2 separate regions of the Homo sapiens genome follow, and region 2 is linked to region 1. A link means that fine-mapping ties the variant in region 1 to the expression of a gene that starts in the linked region. Tissue or cell type: subcutaneous fat. Region 1 holds a variant in brackets; the other region holds the start of a gene. All regions are shown on one strand. Distances are between the middles of the regions.

What was found. PIP is the estimated chance that this variant, and not a neighbour inherited with it, causes the effect.
Region 2: it holds the start of DYNLRB2-AS1, and the variant in region 1 is fine-mapped to the expression of DYNLRB2-AS1 in subcutaneous fat (GTEx, PIP 0.95).

What each region holds. Positions count from the first base shown.
Region 1 is chr16:80,513,572-80,521,681 of GRCh38, forward strand. All of the region lies in intron 2 of DYNLRB2-AS1 (DYNLRB2 antisense RNA 1), which reads right to left. Among named protein-coding and RNA genes, the nearest start is that of DYNLRB2, 23 kb to the right of the region's middle. The variant A/C (reference allele first, on the strand shown) is at 4,031.
Region 2 is chr16:80,558,502-80,566,611 of GRCh38, forward strand. It overlaps DYNLRB2-AS1 (DYNLRB2 antisense RNA 1), which reads right to left and starts at 4,634. Exons shown (of 6, transcript NR_120307.1): 1 at 4,528-4,634.

The sequences.
Region 1 (8,110 bases):
GATGTGGGATTCTGTCATTTGAGGTGTGTCTCACCTGAAGTTGAAAGAGAATTAGATCAAGGAGATGCAAGACAAGGAGCCAAAGAACTCTGTTACATATACCACTTAAAAAATCACCTGAAGGATCGCTTGAACCCAGGAGTTCAAGGCTGCAGTGAGCCGTGATTTTGCCACTACACTCCAGCCTGGGCAACAGAGTGAGACCCTGTCTTAAAAGAAAAAGAAAAGAAAAAAAGGCAAAAGAAAATCACCTGAAAGGGGATCTATAGATCACTTTTGTTTTTGTTTTTCTAAGCAGTCTTTTTTCTAAGAAAAAAATACAGAAAGTAGCACAGAGTATTCGTGTGAGCCAACCCTGACGGGTAACCCGTTGAAGTACATTTCCGAATGAACGCTGCTGGGAGAGAGGGGCACACAGCCAGCAGATAAGGTTGCAGGGGGATGAAGCCATAACACAGAGCATAGCTTTTTCTTTGTGGGGAGGCCTTTCAGATGCTGGTGATGAACCATGCAAGCTCCATTGCTCTGAAGTCAGGCTCACAGAAAGGAACAAACGGCAGGGAGAGGTTTACATCAAATTGCATCTGAACTTTCAACTACAGTCCTCCTAACAGCTGCCTTGGGTAAGAATCCTGGCAAGTGCGTTTAAATTTTTATTCATGTGCAGACAGGAGAGGAGGTGAGGAAACAATTCTGAGATGAAGAACTCCAAATTATGAGAAGAATGCCAACTGTCAATAATCAAAATAATTCTTCTCTGCATAATCAACACCACATCGGCACAGCTGCTGACGAAGAAACAATAAACACCAAATAAAAATAAAAATTTCTCTCTCTTTTTTTCATGCTACCTTACAAGGAAAATCTGTACTGGAGCAAGGCTTTGTGGAATAGTTCCTAAAACATGCAATCAACATTTTCTTGAAATTACAGCTGGCATCCTGTATCTAGCAAACTTCTTTCTTTCCACATTCTTATTTATACCTTGTAGAGACAGCTTAACACTCAATTGCTAGTGCCATGTGTTTGACAATTGATTGTGTACTGCCCAATGGCACACCTGACTTTAGAGCATTGAGATTATATATGTACATGTGTGTCTCTGCTGTACATGATTAGGATCATGTGACACTGATCAGTTCCACAGGGTCATTAGGCAGGAGTCCCAAACTTGCTCTTTATTTCATAGGATGACATCAATCCTAGTTTGAGGAGCAGCACAATCTCAGGTTTCTGAATTTAACTTCACAGGGTCCAGAGTCATTAGAGTGTAACATATTGGCTCTGGACTCAGACAGCTGGGTTGGAATTACACACCACCATTCACTATCACATGACTTCAGAATGTCACTTGACCTCCGGAGGTCTCAATGTATTCATCTGTAGAATGGGAATAAGAATACTCCCTCAGATGTTTGTTGTAGGAATTGTAAAGTAATTTGTGGAATATGTTCACACAAGGCATGGCTCACAGTGAGCACATGGCCAGTGTTAACTATTATAACTGCTCTGGGGTTGAGGAACAGTTCATCCCTCTGTCCTGAAATTCCTTCTATAACATAGTAATGGCCTACACTCCCTTTGACTTAGAAGGATTTCTACTTTCTCCCTATTTACTATAACTTGGCTATTCATTTGATTGTGAATTGCCCAAAGAACTATTAATGTCTGGATTCCGTAGGGGTTACACGTAGTGGTGCAAGATGTTAAGGGTGCCCTAGGGAAATGAACACAAGTCTCCCACATCAAAGGGTGAAGATGCACTAGCTAGTTGATTTAGCTCCTTTTCGGAACATATTCCCTTCATGTGCGTGGCTATAGTGTTGTGTGGGTGGCGCTAAAACTTGGAGATGATAGAGAACTATTCCTTCAAGGAAGAGATTCTCTTGAACTCTATTGGCGTTGGTCAAAAATGAACCCTTGTGAGACTGGCCGCCAAGGATCACATCGCAGAGGTAGTGCTATGTGTTTCTTCTTTTGGGGTACACAAAAAACTACATTTCCCAGATTCCCTTGGAGTTAGATTAGAACCATGTGGCCAATAGGATGTAAGTAAGAGAGACACTTTTGGGGCTTGTCTTAAAAATATCTAAAAATATTTCATCATGTCTTTGATGACCTTTCTTGTTATTCAGCACTCTAGACAGAGGGAAGAGAAAATGAAAAGGTCTTGAGACAGAAACAAGGTGATGTGTTAGAAGCCTACCCAGAACTAAGCTTAAGGCCTCAAATATATATCTCAAAAAGGAGTGAGTTGAGAGAGGTGGGCAAGGGGTAACCCAGTTCATGAATTAATATATAAACACTATATTCATAGGACAGCACCTCAGCCTCTCATTCACAGCCCATTTGTTATTCTAACAAGTTTCATTATCTGGCTTCCAGATCCAGAACAAATTAGAGACGGCTAATTTGCTAATCTTTTTCTTTTCTGTTTTTTTGTTTGTTTGTTTGTTTGTTTTTCTGAGACAGAGTCTTGCTCTGTCGCCCAGGCTGGAATGTAGTGGCGCCATGTCAGCTCACTGCAACCTCCGCCTCCCAAGTTCAGCAATTCTCCTGCCTCAGCCTCCTGAGTAACTGGAATTACAGGCGCTCACCACCACTCCCAGCTAATTTTGATATTTTTAGTAGAGAGGGGTTTCACCATGTTGGCCAGACTGGTCTCGAACTCCTGACCTCAAGTGATTTGCCCGCCTGAGCCTCCCAAAGTGCTGGGATTACAGGCATGAGCCACCACGCCTGGCTGAAGCAGCTAATTTGATGGGAGCACAGAACTGCTACAAGTAGACATACCCTCATCGATAAGATGAGGGTATTCTATCCCACCCACAAGCCCTCCACTTCTCATAGGTTTACAAGGCCATTCCCTTCGACTTTCCTCATACGACATGATGTCAATTCCCTTTTCACTTTAGCTCTCTCCTTTAAACCTCCTCTCATTCTCTTAAATCCTCTCACATCAAAATTTAATGCAATGTTGCATGTGTGGCTCCGTCAACAATGATTGGAGCCTGTGTTTAAGAGGCAGCCACAAACTCAAACACTTCCAGGGACAGAAACGTAGAGTAACTGAATAAAGAAAGCAAGTACAAGACAACAAGAAATAGTGTGCCTCATGGTGAGTAAATGAAAAGAAAATGTCCAGCCAAAGCCATTCTTGCATCAATCACAAGAAGGGATCCAATATTCTGACCCAGATGATTTGTGTAAGTCAGTCGAGACATGGCATGTTTGCCCAATATGTCTGAAAGAAAGAATGGATATTTCATATTTTAGGGAAAAATGTCTTCATCCCTGCTGTTGGACACAAACAAAGAAGCATGAGCCGCCATCTTGCCACTGGCCACCACCTTACAACCCTGAGGAGCAGGACCCGCATTGAGAAAATCAGGATGGAAACATGGAAGGCACCTGCATCCTTGATGATGCCACGAATCGCTGAACCAACCAGTCCTAGAGCGTACCCTAACTTTAATTTCTGTATGAGAACAAATGTTTCATTGTTTAAGACAGTTTGAGTTGGGACTTCTCATCCCACCCTCAGCAGCATCCTAGAAAACACAGAATTCCATTTGTAAGTGCTGTGATAACCAAATAAGACTTGCTCAGGAGCAAGACAGAACCCATGGGCACTTGAAATGTGAGCTATACTGTGAGCAAATACTCCCGGATTTTGAAAGACTTAGTGAAGAAAAAAAAAATTAAGGATCTCATTAATACACTTTTTATATCCATTACATCTCAAAACAATAATATTTTCTGTATGTTGTTTTAAATAAAATATATTCAAGTCAATTCGCCTATTTCTTATCTTTTTTAATTTGCTTACTAGAAAATTTAATATTACGTACGTATTCACATTGTATTTCTATTAGACAGCACTGATCCAGTTATTGTACTTCTTCCAATCAGCCTGAGGACATTAGGTCTCTTAACATTATTTACTAATACTTCATTTGCCGTCCACAAAAGTCTCTGAACTCTTCTTAGCCTTTCTTGTGCTTAATCATTCTCTCCATTCTGTTTTCTG[A/C]AGTTATTTTCTTAACCTAAGAAATTTATGTTGATCCTAATTATAGCTTAGAAGTCCATTGCTACAGGCCAATGGTTCACCAGAGGACATGCTGGAAATATGTGGGGGCAGTTTGGGTTGTCACATAAGGGGGAGGGGACACTGTGGCATTTAGTGAGCAGGGGCTTGGATATTGCATAGTGGATAAGAGAACTGTCTCACTTCCCATTCCCACATGCCAATCCCTATACATATGTATAAAAATGACCAGAAGCTGATTTCATTTTACTTATTAATATAGGTATTTTTTGCATGGGGCTAATGTAAATGAATTCTCCAGGAAAGCGACCGCTGTGTAAATGAAGGGAAAAGTATACTTTGTTTTGCTCAGAACTTCAGAAGTTATTCATCATTTAGAAAAATCACACATTTACAACAGTGGCAATACTGGTATATGAGTCACCAGAGTAGCTCAACTGCTTTGATCCACATTTGAGCTGCTCCACTAAGATAATTCTATGCATAGGTCCTATTAGGTTGGTACAAAAGTAATTGCAGTTTTTACCATTAATAATATACCTGTTAAATTTTTATTTCAAAATGTCAAATATAAAGAAAAAGTGTCAACAATATTCAATTGAATATTGTTTTCTCTTAAATTCAAACTAATTCATTACATCAGAGGCAAGCATCTAAGTACAATCAGTTCTGATATAATATAATATATGCATTCCTACAAATCACTTCGCTATGCAAAATCACACGGCATAACATTCAAAAACTTCAATATTGACACATTTAAAGAAACAAATAAAAATGGTTGCATGGTTTTACAGATGTTAAATGGTTAAGAAATATATAAGTACTACAACGCACATGGTACTTTACCTTGAAAAAGACCAAAAGTTTGCTTGTGTACCTGTGGGCCATGGAAACGTACAGCTTGTGAGTTACTGTGGAGAGTCACTCAGAGGCTGCACCTTTCTGTGGAAAGAAGAGTTGTCTGAATGAGAAGAAAGGGTGTAACACCAGCTGCAGATGGGTACGACTCACCACATGCAAAAAACTGAGGTTGCTGGGAGATGTTTGAGTCGTATGCAAGTGGACTCAGCTGGCTGCAGTTTCCTCTGTTCACCTCGTGTTGCTCATGAAAGAAATCATGCATAAGCAAACGGAAATGTTTATTTGTTCCTTCCTGTATCAGTCGTGCTATAATTAATTTGCATTTCCAAAACAAGTATTATGGCAGAACCAATCGTGTGTCATTATTTCCTAGTGTGATTTTATTTTTTAATGCCCTTTATTTCTCCTTTATACTACATTTAGGGCTTTATATTAAAGTTTGGAAATTACATGTCTAGGTGGCTGAGACATTCAGTTCACAATAATGAAAGTGGCACTTCAAAATATTTCATATAAAGAGGGTGTTGGGTCTAAAAGGGTTGAGAACCTCTGATCTAACCTACTGAGTAGTTGCTGAAGAATTGCGTTTCTATGCATTTGTTACTCCTCTTTGGTATGTGCAATCCATAGATTTAATAAATGTGTCTCCCACAGAGCCATTCAAATCACTAAAATGATTTTTTTTTCCAGGACAGGACTAAAGAAAGAATTCAGGTCTTGCCAGTAGAAATCGCCCTCTCATGCATCCATTAACCAGTCCCTAGACATTCATTCAATCACAAAACGACCTCACCTTTCATATCTGTCCATTTTGCCCAGCAGGTTAGCAAAAGAAACCCTGCCCAGGAACTTCCTGGGGTTAAGCCACCCCACAAAGCCAGACCATGCTGCTTGCCACATTCACATAATCCTCTGGTCTAAAATTCTCACCAAATAGAAAAGCTCATGTCATTGAGCTTTTCTGGAAATGCCTGAGCCTGCTGATGTTCCTTTAGAAAATGGTTTCCTGATTGGAAACCGGTGTTCTGTGGTCTGACCAGCACAGGAAATACCAACACATGAATAAAACACCTATTTTGATTTTGGTTTTGGTTTTTATAAATGGAGACATTTTCAAAAGAAAAGAAAAAAAATTATCGGGCTGGAGCAACAATTTCTAAATCCCATCACCTGGGTAGTGTTTAAAAATACATAGAACCAGTCCCTACTCCAGATCCACTGAGGTAGAATTTCTGGAGTTAGATCCCAGCAAGTGACATTAAAAACAATTTTTGCAGGAGTTTCTGGTGTGCAGCAATCATGCTTGGAAGCAAACATCTCAATCATTATGTCCTTCAAGTAGATATTAATAACTAGTGAATGCTAATACACACGCCAACTACGTGCTAGGGGCTGAGGCTTCAAAACCATGGTTTTCTAACTTGTAAGAGATACACAGTCTAATACACAGTGTCAACTGCCATACAAGAGGCAAATACTATGATAAAGCAGGTATTTCCCAACCTTTTTTCATGATTACCACCAGAAGAGCCATTTTAGATATCTTTTTCCTAATCTCTTCCTACCATGAAATTTTATATACTGTGTATCTGTTTATGTATTACATATATCTACATTTTATACATAAAAATAATCTTTTTATTCCCCTCTCCAAATAACCAGTCGGTGCCCCTTGGGGGCAATATTACCTGCATTGAGAATGCATGTGATAAAGGTATATGGAAAGGATAACGGGGCACAGTTAGTCAACTAACTGCCTGGGACAGTCAGGGAGGGTACATGAGGAAGTAACATTTGAACTAGGTTTTGTAGGATAAGTAAGAGTTTCCCATCTGAGAAAAGGGAGAGAAATGAGTTTAGGAGGAACGGCTCCCAAGCATGTTTGCTAACTGTTTGCAAAGCATGGTGTGCTCTGAGACCTGTACATCCACAGAAGGAGTGGGGCATTTTAAAATACAGATATTAAAATACAATTTTCATTAAAAAACTGACGCTTGGCCTGCCGTGGTGGCTCACGCCTGTAATCCTAGCACTTTGGGAGGCCGAGACGGGCAGATCAGGAGCTCAGGAGATCGAGACCATCTGGCTAACACGGTGAAACCCCATCTCTACTAAAAATACAAAAAATTAGCCGGGCGTGGTGGCGGGTGCCTGTAGTCTCAGCTACTCGGGAGGCTGAGGCAGGACAATGGCGTGAACCCGGGAGGCGGAGCTTGCAGTGAGCTGAGATCGCGCCACTGCACTCCAGCACTTCAGCCTGGGCGACAGAGTGAGACTCCGTCTCAAAAAAAAAAAAAAAAAAAAAAAAAAAAAAAAAAAAACTGAGTCTGATGAAGCATCAAATCCTGGAATCCTTTGCAGGTGGCATGAGTACACAGGGAACGGAAATTGTAAGAACATTGAGTTAGTAAAGACAGGTACTTGGTGCCTTTAATTTCAGCCTATGTCTCAGATGGAAAGGCTCCTGAGTAATAAATAATAGAGCACACTTTGGGCATAGTTCATTCACTCTTCTTCCAGACACATTTCAAAGACCATTCAAAGCAAGTTGTGAAAGCTCTGATTAACATACAACACAGAGCTCTCCCTATATACTCTCAAGGGTAAAAATACTGCTGAAAAGTCATTTCTTTTTAAAGCTGAGCATCTAACACCACCTTGTGAATGATAATAAATGGCATGCTAAGCTGCAAGGTAGACCAGCCCTCTGTCTGAGTCTGCAAGTTTTATTTACACAAAAATGCATACCCATTCTTTGGCCAAGAGACCATGATCGTCTTCCGGTGAGATAAGATTTCCTATGGGACTCCTGGTATTTCCCAATTCAAACTTGGTCAGAAATAGCAACCCAAACTCTCATGGGTTTGTTTTCCTTTTTTTTTTTTCTTCTTCTTCTTCTTCTTCTTGATAATTCCCATTCGAGCAACATTAGGAATGTACATGTATTTGCTCTTAAAATAATATTCCAGTTATCTTTCCTACAGTTGGAGAAGTTTAGGATTTTTTAACAGCTTCAAATCTTACTGAATATTTAGGGGAAAGATGTATAGATAAGGGACAAAAAATGTTGTAAGAGAGAAAATCCATACACCACCATCTTCATCCCACTAGGTATGGAGATAGAAACTTAATATGAAAATGGAAACTCTTGAACTAAACACCTTCAGAAGGGTGGCACTTGGACATTCTAGAATGGAA
Region 2 (8,110 bases), 45 kb after region 1:
ACGCCTGGCCTTGTTGTGCTTTTGACAGTCCATTAAGCTTCTGCATTGCCTTATTCTTATCCCAGTACCTGGCAGAAAAATCTAGCACATGGTGGGTGCCCAGTGTCTGAGGGTTAAATGATCAATGTTTATCCCCATCCTATTTTCCTACTTTAGGAACACTGCTCCCTGGATCACAAGATTGGTTGCAAAAAAGGTCCACCAAGGTAATCAGTGCCTTTGAAGAAGACAGAGTTAGCTAAATCTCCTAAAAATACTCAAGACAGGATCCTGACCAATTAATTAGCAGCTTCAAAGCTTGAAGTTCTCAATTCACATTGCAAAATGAATCAAGGCAGGTCACTGACTCTCACAGGCCTCCTTCTGTATCTGCTCCTGCACAACTTTCTGCTTCTTGAATAGCCTCAAGGAAATATCTGGAGCCTCCTGATCAATGCCAGGAGAGCAGAAGGCCCGGCTTCTCAGAACAGGCTCCAGCCATCTCAGCTGCACCCTTTGGGGAGCATAAATGGGAGGCCTGTATCAGCAAGTCCCACATCTCTGGGAAAAGAATCATCAGACTGCAATGCCCCAAATGGTGCCAGCAGCCAGATCTTGTATTCAATATGAGCTTTAAGTTGTTCACCAACTCTGAACCTTTGCATTGGGTATTCGGTCATATCTCAGGGGAAGTGGAGGAAAGTAAATGTCTAGTATCGCCAAGAAAAAAAATTAAAAGCACAACACCGTCAGTGAGGGCAGGAGGACAGGAAAGGGGATATTATCGGACATGTTTACCTATTCTTGCCAAACCTGGCAATTTCCAGGAGAGGCAAAGAGAGATTATTAACCGTTTATGAAATCTTGAATTAATAAAAACGCTGGCTCCATCTAAGGCTCTAACGGAAAGAAGGTGTGCTTCTTAATCAGAGAACCATTAACCAGGTGGCATCCCATTCTGCAAGCATTTAACCATAATTGCTTTAAGCCAGGCACACTTTATGCCCGTGAACAGACATGGGTGACGTCAGGTCTGCCTAAAGGAGCTCCTGGTGTAATAAGGGAAACAGGCATGCAGAGATGTACATGTTCAATACAGTAAGTTAATAGCAGCACATGAAGTATGAGTGAGGGACAGTGGAAATGCAGAAAAAGGACTGCTGGTGTGCATGGTGTTTAAGGAAAGCTGCATTAGGACAGACACACCTGAGCTGGACTATAAAGGGGGAATAGGAGTTTACGGTGGAAAGAAGAGAGAAAGCACTATCTGGACAGAAGGAACCCCAAAGGAGGGCATGCTCTAGGCAAGTGGCTTTTCAAACCTTGCTTTAGGAAACAGTAGCCTTTGCTCACACAGAACCTTGATCAAAGGCCAGCAAAGCTACTCTCCATGAAGCAGGACGGGGCTCCTTTTCCATGCCATTCTCTCATCCTGCCCTTGGCCACTCCACACTTAACACACAGTGGTCCTCACCAGAGTCTCATGGAACCCCAGGGCTATACAAGCAGACTTAGGAAACCACTGAACTAAGCAATACAAATTCTGCATTTGCAATGGTTAAAGTCAGAACTGGGATGGCCTTTTGAAAGTTTTGATACTGTCAGGCCACCCTAGATCCTTCCAGTTTTACTCCCCTCATCAAGTCTGATGACTTCATTCTTTCTTTGGAGGTGTCTGAAATTACCACCATGGTCACCTCCTGCAAAATCAGTTAGTTGTGTGGGTTCCCCATCTCTCTTCACATCTGGAAATGACTTACAAACAAGGATCTATCTTCTCCCTGCATTTTCTCCCACCAAAACCCACAAATTTTATTTAATGAAAAGTCACATAGCACTCAATATACCTGGACAGTGTCCCAAGCCCCTCCCAGATCTAACCAGCACCAAGTAGATACTTCATAAAAACTTGAATTAAAAACACCCTTTCAAATCTCAGCTTATTTTTCAAGATGATCTATTCCAGGGTTTTCCACACTTGCCTGATCATAACAGCAAGTTATGATACTTAAAAATCCTGGTACTTAAGAATCCAGATTCCCAGGATTCTGATTATCACTTCTCGTGTCTTTCTTTTCCAAGTGTGGTCAGGGAAGAGCAGCACCAGCACCACTTGGGAGCTTGTCAGAAATGCAGAATCCTAGGCCCTATCCCAGACCTACTGAGTCAGAATCTGCATTTAACCCGATTCCTAGGATTTTCTCATTCCCATTAAACTTTGAGAAGCACTACTCCAAGTCAGGGGACTTTATTCCGCCACCCCCCACCCCCAGCAAATGCCCTGGAGGAGAGGGGCTATAATTGGGAAAGTGGGTGAACATAGCAGCTCCATCGCTCTTCTCTGAATGAATCTCCCTCCACTGCCAAGTCCAGGCCACCCACAGCCACAGTCAGGAACCCTGAGAGAAGAAAAGGACTATTGTATATAAGTCAAGGTATGCCCCCATCCTGACTAAAAGAAAGAGAAAGCAGACTCCTGTAAAATCCACCCAAAGTAGGGAATCCTGATTCCCCAGCCAGGTTTCATGCCCCCAAGCATTTGTGAGTTCCCAGGGGAGCCTCAGGCTGCCAGTGAGCCAGTCCACCCATTTTCCATGTGGCATCTCCATGACCTTCCCCTACACCTCCTCCAACCCTCTTCCCTTGGCACTCACATGTCCACAGGACAATGCCATTCCTTCCAGAACTACTGAGTTCTGAACATCACAGACACTTCCTACAGGAACCACTGAACTAGAGGATACAACCCCACTCACCTGCCACCACCATGTCCTCCCATGCACGATTGCCACCTGCAAGGTCCGTCTGGAATTAGAAGACGGGAGTCCTGTTTGGGCACCTTGGGAAGTCTACTCTTTGAGTTTTCACATTTCAGAAAGTTTCCTAGATATAGACCTCATTCTCTAATCAGAATGGTTCTTTCACTCAGAGAAGGTGGTCTTACCAAGTTAAGCCTGCTTGTCGTGACTTCCTCTTCACTTAGGGTGAGTTCTTTCCTGGGAGCTCCTAAACATGCATGCAAACGTATTTCTGATAGAGACAGCTTATTCATCGGCTAGATGTGCCTGGATCCCAGTGTGAACACAACCTGGGCTCAAACCAGGTTCCTAGAGCACGTGTGCAACGCAGTGTAGAGTAAAGGAGTCTATGCTTTGTTATAGTTATTTATGAATGTCACCCCACTTGATTTCAAAATTACCTAGCCTGGCAGGCCTTATTAATCCCATTTTTCTGATAAGGAAAACGAGGTTCCTATGAGGGCAGTATCTTGCTCAGAGCTGCACTGTTTGACTCAAAGCTTCTTGAGTTCAGAAACTAAGCCTTATTTCTCACTATCTGTCTCCCCAGACCCTGTGCATTGTTCAGTATCTGCACTTCGTCTGTGCTCAGCAAATGTCTGTTGAATAAAAGAGTAAACGAATTGTGAATGTGGCCACAATCCACATCGGCAGTGGTGGGGATGCAAATAGGGACACATGCTTTAAATGAAAACACTCATCACTGGGAGCTCCACCTTCCAGATCCTCGGGACATCTGGGTTCTCTTGGACCTATCCCTTTCCACCTCTTCCCAGACCACTGACCCTGGTGTACTTTCTATTCCTGTCAATACAGAAGACAAGATGGTCCACGCTCAAGGTTAGGATAATCACCTCCAACACAGCCAGAAACTCCCTCACATGTGTTTGTGGGCATATTTGTTTGTGTGTGCACACATGGGAACATTTTACAAGATATACATCAAGACAACATTAATCATAGTGATTTCTTTTTTGTGGGGGTGGGCAGAGTCTCGCTCTGTCACCCAGGCTGAAGTGAGTGCAATGGCAGGATCTCAGCTCACTGCAACCTCCACCTCCCAGGTTTAAGTGATTCTCCCGCCTCAGCCTCCCAAGTAGCTGGGATTACAGGCACCCACCATCATGCCGAGCTAATGACAGTGATTTCTGCGTGAGTGGGATTATGCCCAATTTTATTTTCTCCCTTTCCACCTTTACACTTTTCTTCTTCAATTTAAATTTGTATTGAGGCATGACATGCATATAAAGAGCACACATCACTTAAGTACCTAGCTTGAGCAATTTTAACAAACTGAAACTATTCGTGAACCCAACACCCAAATCAAGACCCTACACATGACCAGCTCCAAAAAGGTACATTTGGGGCTCCCTTTCGGTCCCTAATGCCCACCCCCAAGAGTCACCAAGAGCCTGATTTTTATCACCAGAGAAGAATTTTTTCTCTGTGTGTGTGTGTGTATGTACTTGGTATAAAGAGAATCTCACTCTTTTGTGTCTGGCTTCTTTCAATCATCAGAACTCTAGTGAGATTTGTCCATATTATGCTGGAGCCATAAATCACTTGTTCTCATTGCTATTTATTGCTTTTTTAGGCATAAAAACTAACATAAATATTTTTAACAGGAAAAAGAAACCAGAGAAGTCAATGCTTTCAGCCACTGGTCCCCAGATACCAGCAATCCAGCAATCTCAGTGGAAAAAACAAACACTCTGGAATCATAGGTTCAAATCCAGACCCGGCCACTCACCTTTCCAGAGAGTGTTATTTCACAATGTGAGCCTCAGTTTCTTAATCTGAAAAATGGTGATCTTCATAGTTCCATGTGCAGGCACTGGTGACTTCCACCCAGATGTCCTTGTATTCTGTTTATTCCTGCTCAATGTTCATCTGCTGGCCTTGGGTATTTTTGCATCCAACTGCCCTTGGGTTGCTAAAGCCTTTTACAGGCACAGATGGGAACCACAGGTGCCTGGGAGTTTATTTATGCTGAGCCTCAAGGCCCAGAGCCAGTGACTGTCGGGTGCAGGGGTATGGAACTCCAGCTTTCTGGCATGCAGGACAGGTGCACTGTACGCTCCAGGGTTCCCCTGCAGGAGCAAACTCAAGCTCCCCTCCACAGGTCTCGGCCTGAAATCACACTCTTCTTGGGCTTCTCTCTCTTTTCACCCCTCTCCCCCTCTCCTCTGCCAGTTTTCCCTGGGAGTTCCTCCTTAATAAGTCACATGCACAGGATTTTTTTGTTTTGTTTTGTTTTTTGTTTTTTTGAGACAGCATCTGTCTCTGTTGCCCAGGCTGGAATGCAGTGGCATGATTTCGGCTCACTGCAACCTCCACCTCCCAGGTTCAAGCAATTCTCCTGTCTCAGCCTCCCGAGTAGCTGGGATTACAGACACCTGCCACAATGCCCAGCTACTTTTTGTATTTTTAGTAGAGACAGGGTTTCACCAGGTTGGCCAGGCTGGTCTCAAACTCCTGACTTCAGGTGATCTGCCTGTCTCAGCCTCCCAAAGTGCTGGGATTACAGGCATGAGCCACCGCGCCCATCCATAGGAATCTTTATACAGGGTCCACTTCTAGGGTACCTGGTCCGATGTTCCCTAAAGATTGTTGCAAGGTAAACATGGATAGTTGTGTATAAATCACCTGGCACCGACAGGTGCTCACACTTGTTAAATCTGTTCCCCATATCAACAGCAGGCTGGCTTTGCTCTGTGGCCACAGGCCTCAAATCATAAAATTCCCCAGGGTTAGAAGGAACCATAAATGTCCTGGACTCCTGGAGCCCTGAATTACTTAAATCACTCTTATCTCTCCCTGAAGAGTATTACGATGGCTTCTAAATGAAATAACCAGGGACAGCATTCTCCCCGCAAAACTCCAGCTTTATTGCATTACAATCAGCACAGCCATCTCGAGTGGAGATGAAGCTGTGAAGAGCGGATATTAAAGCCACCAGCTGCTTTGAGTGTCCCCCAGATCGGCAGCTAGATTACTGGCCTGGGCAGCACCTGCACCCTCTCCCATTCTACCCTAGCTGGCTGGAGGAGGCTCTGTCCTTGGGCAAAAGTGGGCACCCCTTGTGAAGCACTCACTTTTCCTGGGAAAGAGGGCTACCTGCACCATAATCTAAAAGTACAGATAGATGTTAAAAATAGGAAGGAAAAACATAGCAAACGCGGAATTATCTCTTTTCTTAAAAAAAGAAAATTCATTGTAACTGAATAATCCGTGGCACTGATCTGTATTCTAAGAGCAGGTTTTAGACTTGTTTCCCTCAACAGGAAGCGACCATCAGGGCCAGATACTGACAGGAAGCAGTTCTTTCATATTAATAGTTGCCGTTTATGTGCCGTGCACTCCTCTAAATGTTTAACAGTCTTTGAAGAAGCTATGTTCATCTTTGATTTGCAGATGAGGAAATGGAGATGTCAAGGAGGTAAACAGCTTACCTCCGAACCCATGCAGCAGGTGGTAACAGAGCTGAGACTCAAACCCCATTCTGTCTGCTTCCAAGGATGTCCTGTTAAGCAGAGCTATGGCCAGGAATTTGGATTCAAAAGATGTTTTAGTTTCCTTGAGTTTTACTGCAAATTGGGTGGCTTAAAACAACGTAAATGCTCCTCATCGTTCCTGAAGCTAAAATCCCTCCTTATATCTTTCTAGCTCTGGTGGTGGCTGGCAATCCCAGGCTTGTAGCGGCACCACTCCAACCTCTGCTCTTAGGGTCACACGGCATTCTCCCTGTGTGTCTGTCTTTGTGTCATCCTCCTTCTTCTTACTAGGACACCAGCCCTACTGGATTAAGAGCCCACCCTACTCCAGTGTGACCTCATCCTAACTAATTACATCTGCACCAACCCTATTTCCAAAGAAGGTCAGATTCTTAGATACTGGGGATGTGACTTCAGCATGTGTTTTGTGGGGACATGATTCAACCCACAACAAGCAGCCAGAAACTCAATTTCTTTCTTTCTTTCTTTCTTTCTTTCTTTCTTTCTTTCTTTCTTTCTTTCTTTCTTTCTTCCTTCCTTCCTTTCTTCTTTCTTTTTTCTTTCTTTCTTTCTCTTTCCTTTTTTTTTTTGATGGAGTTTTGCTCTTGTCACCTAGGCTGGAATGCAACGGTGCGATCTCAGCTCCTCAGCTCACTGCAACCTCCACCTCCCAAGTTCAAGTGATTCTCCTGTCTCAGCCTCCTGAGTAGCTGGGATTACAGGCGCCCACCACCATGCCAGGCTGCTTTTTCTATTTTTATTAAAGATGGGGTTTTGCCATGTTGGCCAGGCTGGTCTCAAACACCTGACCTCAGGTGATCCACCCGCCTCAGCTTCCCAAAGTGCGGGGGTTACAGGCGTAAGCCACCACACCTGGCCCAGAAATTCAGTTTCTAAACAAGGAAATTCAAAGAAACAGAGGAGGGGCTTGTTCTCCTGCCTCACAGAGGGACCCCTGGTCAGGCACTCAGTGCCTTTGATCCTAAGTCTCCATCTCTGTCTTTGTTCACCTGCTGCTGAGGTACTGGTCTCAGAAGAAGAGGCCAGCTCAGCACTGCAACAGGAATAAGGAAGAGCATGGGGGAGGGAGTTCAAGCTTCAAAATATGGTGCCCTCTTAATTGCAGTATTCTGAGGCAAAACCCTATGACCCGTTCTGGTTAAGACTCTACTCATAAAATACTTCTTCCAGATGGGGTCCTTAACTGCAAGCATGGAAACCAACTCTGGATGATTTTAATTGAAAGAAAATCTATTTTAAAGATAGGATCTAGCTCACTCAATAGCCAAGAAGGCTGGAGGACCAGCTTAAACAGTGCCCAGGAGCAAGAGAGTCTAAGAGACAGCCAAAATCAGAACCAGCCAGCCCAATGCAGACATTAGTGCCACTTGAGCATGGTCCCGCTGCCATGGGCCCACAGCCCTGCTGCCAGTAGGCCTTTGACATTACTACTGCTACCACCACACTAACAGCAAAGATTCTTCACTACCCCTGACTTTTCAGGCCACTGGCTCCAGATTCATAGTCACTGGTTGAGCTTGAGCCTAGCACACCCATCTAAGGACTCGTTGCAAGGAAGTCTGGGAAAGCAGGAATCTATCTTCTTGAGCCTTAATAGAGAAAGATGGCCACTGACTCCTCCGAAAATGAGTCATACACTGAGCAGTTACACAAATATAGGAAGGAGGTTCAAATGTTGGGCAAACAATGCAAAGTTGGTTTTTAGGGAAGATTCAATCTGGGTGTCCAGAAGCAAAGGTAAGATGGCAGGTGTCAGGGCCAAATGTGCTAAAAAGGGAGTTCACAGCTCATGGACTGGAGAGACTGGTGCCAGAAGTC